2 linked regions of the Homo sapiens genome follow. The protein of the gene in region 1 purifies or fractionates together with the protein of each later gene. This does not show direct contact. Each region holds a gene or a part of one and is shown in the gene's direction. Other genes may lie near its edges. The genes, in order: SMAD5 and RUNX2.

The links.
Region 2: the proteins of SMAD5 (region 1) and RUNX2 purify together in Homo sapiens (affinity purification with western blotting; 2 studies listed by BioGRID and IntAct, with this or other methods). This does not show direct contact.

The regions. Positions count from the first base shown.
Region 1 is NC_000005.10:136,177,740-136,183,445, forward strand, and holds the end of SMAD5 (mothers against decapentaplegic homolog 5), read left to right. Parts: 3' UTR 1-4,994; downstream 4,995-5,706. UniProt on the Homo sapiens protein: Transcriptional regulator that plays a role in various cellular processes including embryonic development, cell differentiation, angiogenesis and tissue homeostasis.
Region 2 is NC_000006.12:45,548,330-45,551,899, forward strand, and holds the end of RUNX2 (runt-related transcription factor 2), read left to right. Parts: 3' UTR 1-2,753; downstream 2,754-3,570. UniProt on the Homo sapiens protein: Transcription factor involved in osteoblastic differentiation and skeletal morphogenesis. Essential for the maturation of osteoblasts and both intramembranous and endochondral ossification.

The DNA.
Region 1 (5,706 bases):
AAACTGGAACATGCTTTTACTTTATTGCCCTAACAATTTTTTATTAAATTTATTTGAAAATGCATCACATGATGAAAAATTATAGTAGCTTATAAGAGGGCATATACAGTGAAGAGTAAGTTTTCCCTCCTACTCTCGATCTTCCAGAAGCTGTACTTTTACCAGTTTCTTTGTCCCACCAACTTAAAAAAAAAAAGTACAATTCATTGTTTTGCAAAAGTGTATGGTAGGGGCTTAAAAGAAACTATAAAGTTTTATTTGAATGAACACTATGCACTGCTGTAACTGGTAGTGTTCAGTAAAAGCAAAATGATAGTTTTCTAGATGACATAAAATTTACATTTAATACAGATAAGTGTTCTTCAGTGTAATGTGACTTCATGCTATATATCTTTTGTAAGACATTTCCTTTTTTAAAAAAATTTTTGCAAATAACTGATCTCAAGTATATGTCATTTACTCAAAATCTGTCATAAGCATTACTTTATAGCTAGTGACAGTGCATGCACAGCCTTGTTCAACTATGTTTGCTGCTTTTGGACAATGTTGCAAGAACTCTATTTTTGACATGCATTAATCTTTTATTTTGCACTTTTATGGGTGACAGTTTTTAGCATAACCTTTGATAAAATACACTCAAGTGACTTGGACTTAGATGCTTATCCTTACGTCCTTGGTACCTTTTTTGTATTAACAAACACTGCAATTTATAGATTACATTTGTAGGAAGTTATGCTTTTTTCTGGTTTTTGTTTTACTTTCAACCTAGGTTATAAGACTGTTATTCTATAGCTCCAACTTAAGGTGCCTTTTTAATTCCCTACAGTTTTATGGGTGTTATCAGTGCTGGAGAATCATGTAGTTAATCCCATTGCTCTTACAAGTGTCAGCTTACTTGTATCAGCCTCCCTACGCAAGGACCTATGCACTGGAGCCGTAGGAGGCTCTTCAGTTGGGCCCCAAGGATAAGGCTACTGATTTGATACTAAATGAATCAGCAGTGGATGTAGGGATAGCTGATTTTAAAACACTCGGCTGGGCACAGTGGCTCACACCTGTAATCCCAGCACTTTGGGAGGCTGAGGCAGGCAGATCATGATGTCAGGAGTTTGAGACCAGCCTGGCCAATATGGTGAAACCCTGTCTCTACAAAAAATACAAAAATTAGCTGGGCATGGTGGTGCGTGCCTGAAGTCCCAGCTACTCGGGAAGCTGAGGCAGAAGAATCACTTGAACCTGGGAGGCGGAGGTTGTGGTGAGCCGAGATCGCACCACTGCACTCCAGCCTGGGCGACAGAGCGAGACTCTGCCTCAAAAAACAAAACAAAACAAAACACTCACCCATCAACGAATATAGACTCTTCTCTCATTTATCGATGATCCTCTTTTTCCATTTTTTAAGTACTTATGTGGAAGCTAGTCTCCCAAAACACAATCTTTAGAGAGAAAAGACATGAACGAACTCCAAAATATCCATTTAATCAATCATGTTTTTGGCTTTGGATAAAGAACTTTGAACCAGTTTTTTTCTCAGGAGCTGTCAAATGGACACTTAATTATGACATGAGAATGAAGAAATTATTTTGGAAAAAAAAAATGACCTAATTTACCTATCAGTGAAAGCTTTATTTTCTGGTGCCTTTTGAAAGTATATGGAGTCATATCATTCTTCTGTTTAAAATGTTAGTTTGGTTTGACTTTCCACTTTGTCCTTTCTGCTCTTGTGAAGAAAAAAAAAAGCATTTTCGAGGAAAGAATTATGCAATTTCTTTTGTTTTCTGTGTCATTATTTATTGCTTTTTCAATGTGCAGCCAGTGGATGGTTTTAGTTCTTTCAGATGAACTGCCATTTGTGTTTCAGCTCACAGTTCTTTGCTGGGTAAAAGAAATACTTTCTGACAGTCACCTGAGCCTTAAATGTAAGTATTACATGACATGCATTCTGTTTCTTCCAGAGTTCTGTCTGCCACACGAAAGAGAATATTTGCTTACTTGATAGAACTTTGGCATTTTCATCATTCTTTTACTTAACCAGGCTTATGGCATGATCTCTGGAACAAATTTGTAGGAAAAAATTACTCCAATTGAATGACTGATGTATGTAATCAACTTCATTGGGCTGCAGTAAACTAGTGGAAATTAGAGAGTTGTTTTATTGGTGTTTTCTACTGTGAGTTAATTAAAAATTGTTTTTATTTGGGGTCATTATGTCACAGTCTTGAGTTAACAAGATCTTACGTGATTGGCCTTTTCTTTGTTTTCTCTTAGGAGTTGTGTCTCATGAATGACAGTACTAAAGCTATTAACAACTAAGAGTTTGACAGAGAACTATAAGCCTGTTGTATCTCCTAAAAGTTGTCAACTCCCCACCCTTGGACTTTAAATGAAAATTTTATTCAGTCCAGCTATTCTTACAGTCCCTAAGGATTTTCATATATCTATGTATAGGAGATAAAATTTGCTAGTAAGATTTTTAAAAACTGGCTAGTGAAAGGAAAGTACCTCTGAAAGAAACCATTTTAGCAAATTATGGTTATATGTTTTAATTTAATCTACAGAATGTTTTATAGTAAAATTCTAGCACCACTAGAATAATCACATAGCATGTACAATATATTTATGCTGGCTGAAAAGACAGAATCTGGGAATAATAAAATTGCAACCAGTTTGGTAATGCAAACAGCAGAATAGAATGAAATCTCAGTAATGAATTAAAGCAACAAAAAGATATTGATTGGCAAAAAGCAAGATATAAGAGATTCATTTGCTTAACATTTCTACATAATATTTATGGTCTGGTCAGTATTGGTCTGGTCAGTATTGCCTGGCTGACGTGAAATGTAAACTAGTAGGCGTGTTATTGATCTGCTAAAACTAACCCTCTTTTTAAGAGGAGATTTAAGGAAGACGTCAATCAAAATGTCAAATATGTGTGTCAGAATATAAATAATTTTTCACATTGTATTGTTGCTATATAAAAAAAATAATAGAATTGGTTGGGTTTCTGAGGTGAAATCCAGAGTAAGAGTACTAGACAGTTCAACAAGCCACATCTAATGGCACAGATAGAGGATGTAGCTATTTTATACCTTTCATAACATTTGAGAGTAAGATATCCTTCAGGATGTGAAGTGATTATTAAGTACTCATACCTGAAATCTGTTGTCAAGATTAGAACTGGGGTTCATGTTAAAAACCTTCCATATTACCTGAGGGTACCTGTGGGGAACAGTTCCTTCCCCTGTGTGGTAGTATTTTGTTGGAAGAGAATGTTTATACAAAAAATGAAATTCTTCCAACAGCAGAGAAACTCTAAAAAGTTTGATAGTACCTATCAAAGTGCTGTACTTCTGTGATAGAGAACATCTGATGTACCAATTTAGATCTATTTCTTTATACTTTTTCTAATCAATTGCTTAATAGTACTTTGGATGATTATCACCTTTGCCACTTAAAATATATAAATATCCTTTTTACTTCATGAGGAAGGAAGAATTTTTTGATAATTACTGAGTTCAGCCTTTTGTGATGACTTATATTTTGGACTTACATTTTAACTTTAAAGAATGTCAGATCCCTTCTTTGTCTTACTAGTTAAATCCTCACCTAATCTCTTGGGTATGAATATAAATGTGTGTCATCGTTATATTGTTCAGCTAGATGAGCAAGTATCTTAGGGTAGTAGGTAGCCTGGTGGTTTTAGAAGTGTTTGGTGATTTTTATGGAGAGAGTTTTCCTAAGTGGTGGTTTATAGGTGGTATCAGATATTATTAGGGCAGCTTTTTGGGGAGTAATCTCAGGTCTCCCAGAGCAGCAGCATTTTTCTCATTGATATAAGTAAGATTCTTAGGAGCTTTTCTTATCACACAAGATGCCTGAATCGAATGTGAGAATTGAAGGCATTTCTTCTGCATAAACAAAGAATTCTACCTGCTGGACAGAAACCTGGAAAGTTCTTTGGAATTCGCTGAATTACAGTTTAGTATGTCCTGATTACAGAGTGACAATATTTATCAAGCCTTTGTTATATTGGATTATCTTCTCTCTTAAAATACAACTGTATTATAATTGAAATGACAGCCCAAAATTGGATGGTTTACCAAAACCAATGAAAGGGATTTCACACATCAATTTTTATTTCTGTTTTGAAGAGCACATGCTATATAATAATTGCTAGTAGCAACTGCAGTAAAACAGGTGATAAGTTATTTTCTCTGAAAAGATCCAGTCCTAGAGCAGGATTCTTCGATCATTCATGGCAGAGTGAAAAAGGTTTGTATGGTTCTTGTCCAAATAACTCAGTTCTTAAAATTCTTAAAATGATCGTAAACCATTATCCTTTAAAGGTTTATTTGAAGATGCTGTTAAAGTACAGAATTTTGTGTACAGGTAGATTTTTCCGTCCCTCATTAATAGTGCCTTCTTAATTAATACAGACTGGTGTTAGCTATAACAAAACTCCAGTAAGGCCAAAGAATCCCAAGTTCTTTGTGGAAAAAAAAAAAAAATCTTTTAGGGTCAGATTTTCCCTTCTAATATCATTGAAGATGATGTTGCATTGATTTATTCATAAAGTATTTTAACTATAGGAACTCTAGAAGATAATGGTTAGGCAAGTGATTTTTTTTTTAAATATGGTTGGCGTAAGTTGTATTTTGAAATTCACTTATTTTAAAATCGAAGAGGATTGTAATCATGGAAATAGAATGTTTGTATCTACCTGCCCACATTTTCTTAAAAAGATATTTCATATACAGATAATGAAGACCAAGCTAGTGGCTGCACTGTAGGTCTGCTGCTTATTTGTATTTGTTGTGCTTCTGTTTATGTTGTAGAAGCTGAAATTCTAGCAACATGCTTCAATTCTGTTATTTTGATACTTATGAAAATGTATTAGGTTTTACTATATTGTGCTTTTGAAAGCCATAACTCTTAAGAACTTTGTTTTTGCATATTGTTTGCTAATTCTTTACTTTAATAAACCTCAAAACCTGCTTAATGTGTCTTTTTTTGTTTTGGCTCTGGAGTTGGCCTGCCTGCGTTTGAGTCATGGGCCTCATAGCTTAGACAAGTTGCTTAACCACTCTATGCCTCACTTTCCTGACCTGTAAAGGAAAAGTCTACTTCATAGGAAGGATTTGAGGGAAGATTAATTGAAGTGTAATACAAATACAGTATTTAGAACAGTACTTAGAACATAAGAACTCAAATATTAAAATTGTTACTATCTTTTACATTTCCACTAGTTCTTTGATTCAGAATAATTACTTCTTATGTTGCTTGACCTCGGTGTATCAACCTTTGATGATCCACTTTGTGAATTTACAATTTTTTATTTCCTTTTGTCTTCTTTTTTGAAAAAATTTTAAATCACAGACTGACTTTGCATCATTGTCACTGTGTTGCACACTTTTACCAACCTCTGAATTACATATACAAGACATGCAAACTCATTCTAATTAGAAAGGAATGGTGAGCGAGGCACAGTGGCTCAGGCCTGTAATCCCAGCTTTTTGGGAGGCTGAGGCAGGTGGATCACCTAAGGTCAGGAATTCAAGAGAAGCCTGGCCAACATGGTGAAACCCCGTCTCTACTAAAAATCCAAAAATTAGCCGGGTGTGGTGGCGCGTGCCTGTAATCCCAGCTACTTGGGAGGCTGAAGACAGGAGAATCGCTCGAACCCAGGAGGTGGAGGTTGCACTGAGC
Region 2 (3,570 bases), on another chromosome or scaffold:
GAAATATTGCTAAGCAATTTCAGTTCATCCAGGCACAATGTGATTTTAAAAAATACTTCCATCTCCAAATATTTTAGATATAGATTGTTTTTGTGATGTATGAAGGAAATGTTATGTTTAGTTCTTTCAGATCTTTGAATGCCTCTAACACAGCTTTGCCTTCTAAAGCGGTAATTAGGGATTTAAAAAACAACCTTTAGCCCTTTATCAGCATGAAATGCTGGAGTGATGTGGTTTTCTAATTTCTTTGGGGTAATTATGACTCTTGTCATATTAAAAAGACAAGCACAAGTAAATCATTGAACTACAGAAAAATGTTCTGTGGTTTCATAGTTAAGCAAAACTCTAAATCGCCAGGCTTCATAGCAAAGACATAGTCAGCTAAAAGCCGCACATGTGGATAGAGGGTTCAATTATGAGACACCTAGTACAGGAGAGCAAAATTGCACCAGAGATTCTTAACCAACCAGCCTTACCAAACAACACAACAGGGGAACCCCAATCTGCCTTACCCAAGGCCCCACTGGCAGCTTTCCACAGAATTTGCATTTAGAGGAGCAGAATGACATCACTGTCCTTTGGGAGTAGGTCCTCTGAAAAGGCAGCAGGTTCCAGCAGGTAGCTGAGCTGAGAGGACATATGGCCCACGGGGACCTACAGACAGCCTTTGACATTTGTATTTCTTACAATGGAGGGCCAAGGAGGGCAAGGGGCTGTGGAGTTTGGTGTCTACTAGTGTGTATGAATTTGAGCTAGAGTCCTTCTGTGGCATGCACTTTGACCACTCCTGGCAGTCACATGGCAGATTTCCAAGTGCAAATCCTTAATCCAAACAAGGATCATCTAATGACACCACCAGGCCAATCCCTGCTCTCCTCCCCGAAAAGTCAGGGTCCCTTCATTGGAATCCTCCACCCACCCAAGCAGAATTTAGCAGAGATTTGCCTTCAAACCCTAACGGCCCCCTTGTTCTCTGGTCCTTCTCAAACCCACCTTTGTAGGCCACCCAGCATTGCAGGACAGCGTGTGGGGCAGCTGGACCTGTGCTTCCTGCCTGGGAGTCTCCCTTGGAATTCATCCTGACTCCTTCTAATAAAAATGGATGGGAAAGCAAAACACTTTGCCTTCTAAAGGCCGTATACCAAGTATGCTTAGATAAATAAGCCACTTTTCTATTACTTAAGTAAGAAGGAAGTAGTAATTGATACTATTTATTGTTTGTGTGTGGTAGCTTGAAGCACACCACTGTCCATTTATTTGTAAGTGTAAAATATGTGTGTTTGTTTCAGCAGCACTTAAAAAAGCCAGTGTCTGGTTACACATTTCAATTTTAATTAATTGACATAAAAATGCTACCGCCAGTGCCAGCTGCATCCTATTTAATTAAAAAGGTACTATATTTGTACATTATTTTTTAATGTTAAAAGGGCTTTTTTAAGTTTACAGTACACATACCGAGTGACTTTAGGGATGCTTTTGTGTTGAAATGTTACTATAGTGGCTGCAGGCAGCAACCCAGAAACACTTTAGAAGCTTTTTTTCCTTGGGAAAAATTCAAGCACTTCTTCCCTCCACCCTCACTCCAACCACCCCAATGGGGGTAATTCACATTTCTTAGAACAAATTCTGCCCTTTTTTGGTCTAGGGATTAAAATTTTGTTTTTCTTTCTTTCTTTTTTTTTTTTTTTCACTGAACCCTTAATTTGCACTGGGTCATGTGTTTGATTTGTGATTTCAAGACCAAAGCAAAGTCTTACTACTACTGTGGAACCATGTACTAGTTCCTGGGAATTAAAATAGCGTGGTTCTCTTTGTAGCACAAACATTGCTGGAATTTGCAGTCTTTTCAATGCAGCCACATTTTTATCCATTTCAGTTGTCTCACAAATTTTAACCCATATCAGAGTTCCAGAACAGGTACCACAGCTTTGGTTTTAGATTAGTGGAATAACATTCAGCCCAGAACTGAGAAACTCAACAGATTAACTATCGTTTGCTCTTTAGACGGTCTCACTGCCTCTCACTTGCCAGAGCCCTTTCAAAATGAGCAGAGAAGTCCACACCATTAGGGACCATCTGTGATAAATTCAGAAGGGAGGAGATGTGTGTACAGCTTTAAGGATTCCCTCAATTCCGAGGAAAGGGACTGGCCCAGAATCCAGGTTAATACATGGAAACACGAAGCATTAGCAAAAGTAATAATTATACCTATGGTATTTGAAAGAACAATAATAAAAGACACTTCTTCCAAACCTTGAATTTGTTGTTTTTAGAAAACGAATGCATTTAAAAATATTTTCTATGTGAGAATTTTTTAGATGTGTGTTTACTTCATGTTTACAAATAACTGTTTGCTTTTTAATGCAGTACTTTGAAATATATCAGCCAAAACCATAACTTACAATAATTTCTTAGGTATTCTGAATAAAATTCCATTTCTTTTGGATATGCTTTACCATTCTTAGGTTTCTGTGGAACAAAAATATTTGTAGCATTTTGTGTAAATACAAGCTTTCATTTTTATTTTTTCCAATTGCTATTGCCCAAGAATTGCTTTCCATGCACATATTGTAAAAATTCCGCTTTGTGCCACAGGTCATGATTGTGGATGAGTTTACTCTTAACTTCAAAGGGACTATTTGTATTGTATGTTGCAACTGTAAATTGAATTATTTGGCATTTTTCTCATGATTGTAATATTAATTTGAAGTTTGAATTTAATTTTCAATAAAATGGCTTTTTTGGTTTTGTTATGTGTGTACCTTGGGTCTTTTCTTGTTCACGGTTTCTCCCTAGTCTGATGTCTACTCCTGCTTACACCTGGGCACTGTTTGGTCTTAGGACTTGCCAGGGCTAGTTAAGAGAAGAGATGCTATATTACTGGGGAGAAGAAAAAAAATCTTGGTAAACGGTGTCTTCTTGTTTTGTCCTGTTCCTAGCGAGGGGTGGGCAAAGAATCTAGCAGTGAACTCACTTCCTTACTAGCTTGTGTCTGAAGGAAGGAGTGCTCACCTCATCCTTGAGTAAGGCCATTTATTCCAACTGGGGGACCTATCAGGCGTATAGATGCAGTCTCGATGGCTTCATGATTCTAATCTCTGAGAACATGAACAGGGCCCCGCAAGTGAACCTCTGGCTATCAACAGAAGATCTCAGGCAGCCCAGATATAGGCTAGTCTGTTTTCCTTTCCACATCTCTTTTGGGTTCTTAAAAATAAAGTCAACCAAAGCCCAAGGATGAGTAAAAACGGACCTTGGCCTGGAGGGCTATAGCCTCAGAAGAATTCTCCTAGTGAACATAACTATAGTTTGGAGATTTTTTTTTCCCGTGGCCATTGTTTATTTTTGGTAAGTCCCCCCCCTTGTGATAAGGTTGAAGACCTGGGGTAGAAAGGTTGCTTTCTCTGTGTCCTATGCTTTCTGAATGCTTGGGCTCACCACAATTCTAAAATAGGGACCCAGGAAAACATGGTGCAGAGAAGGTCAGCCAGTGGCCAAGCTGACCCACATCACAGGGAGAGTTAGAGACCTTGAAGATCTGCTCATTCTTAACCCTTTGGCACTATTTTC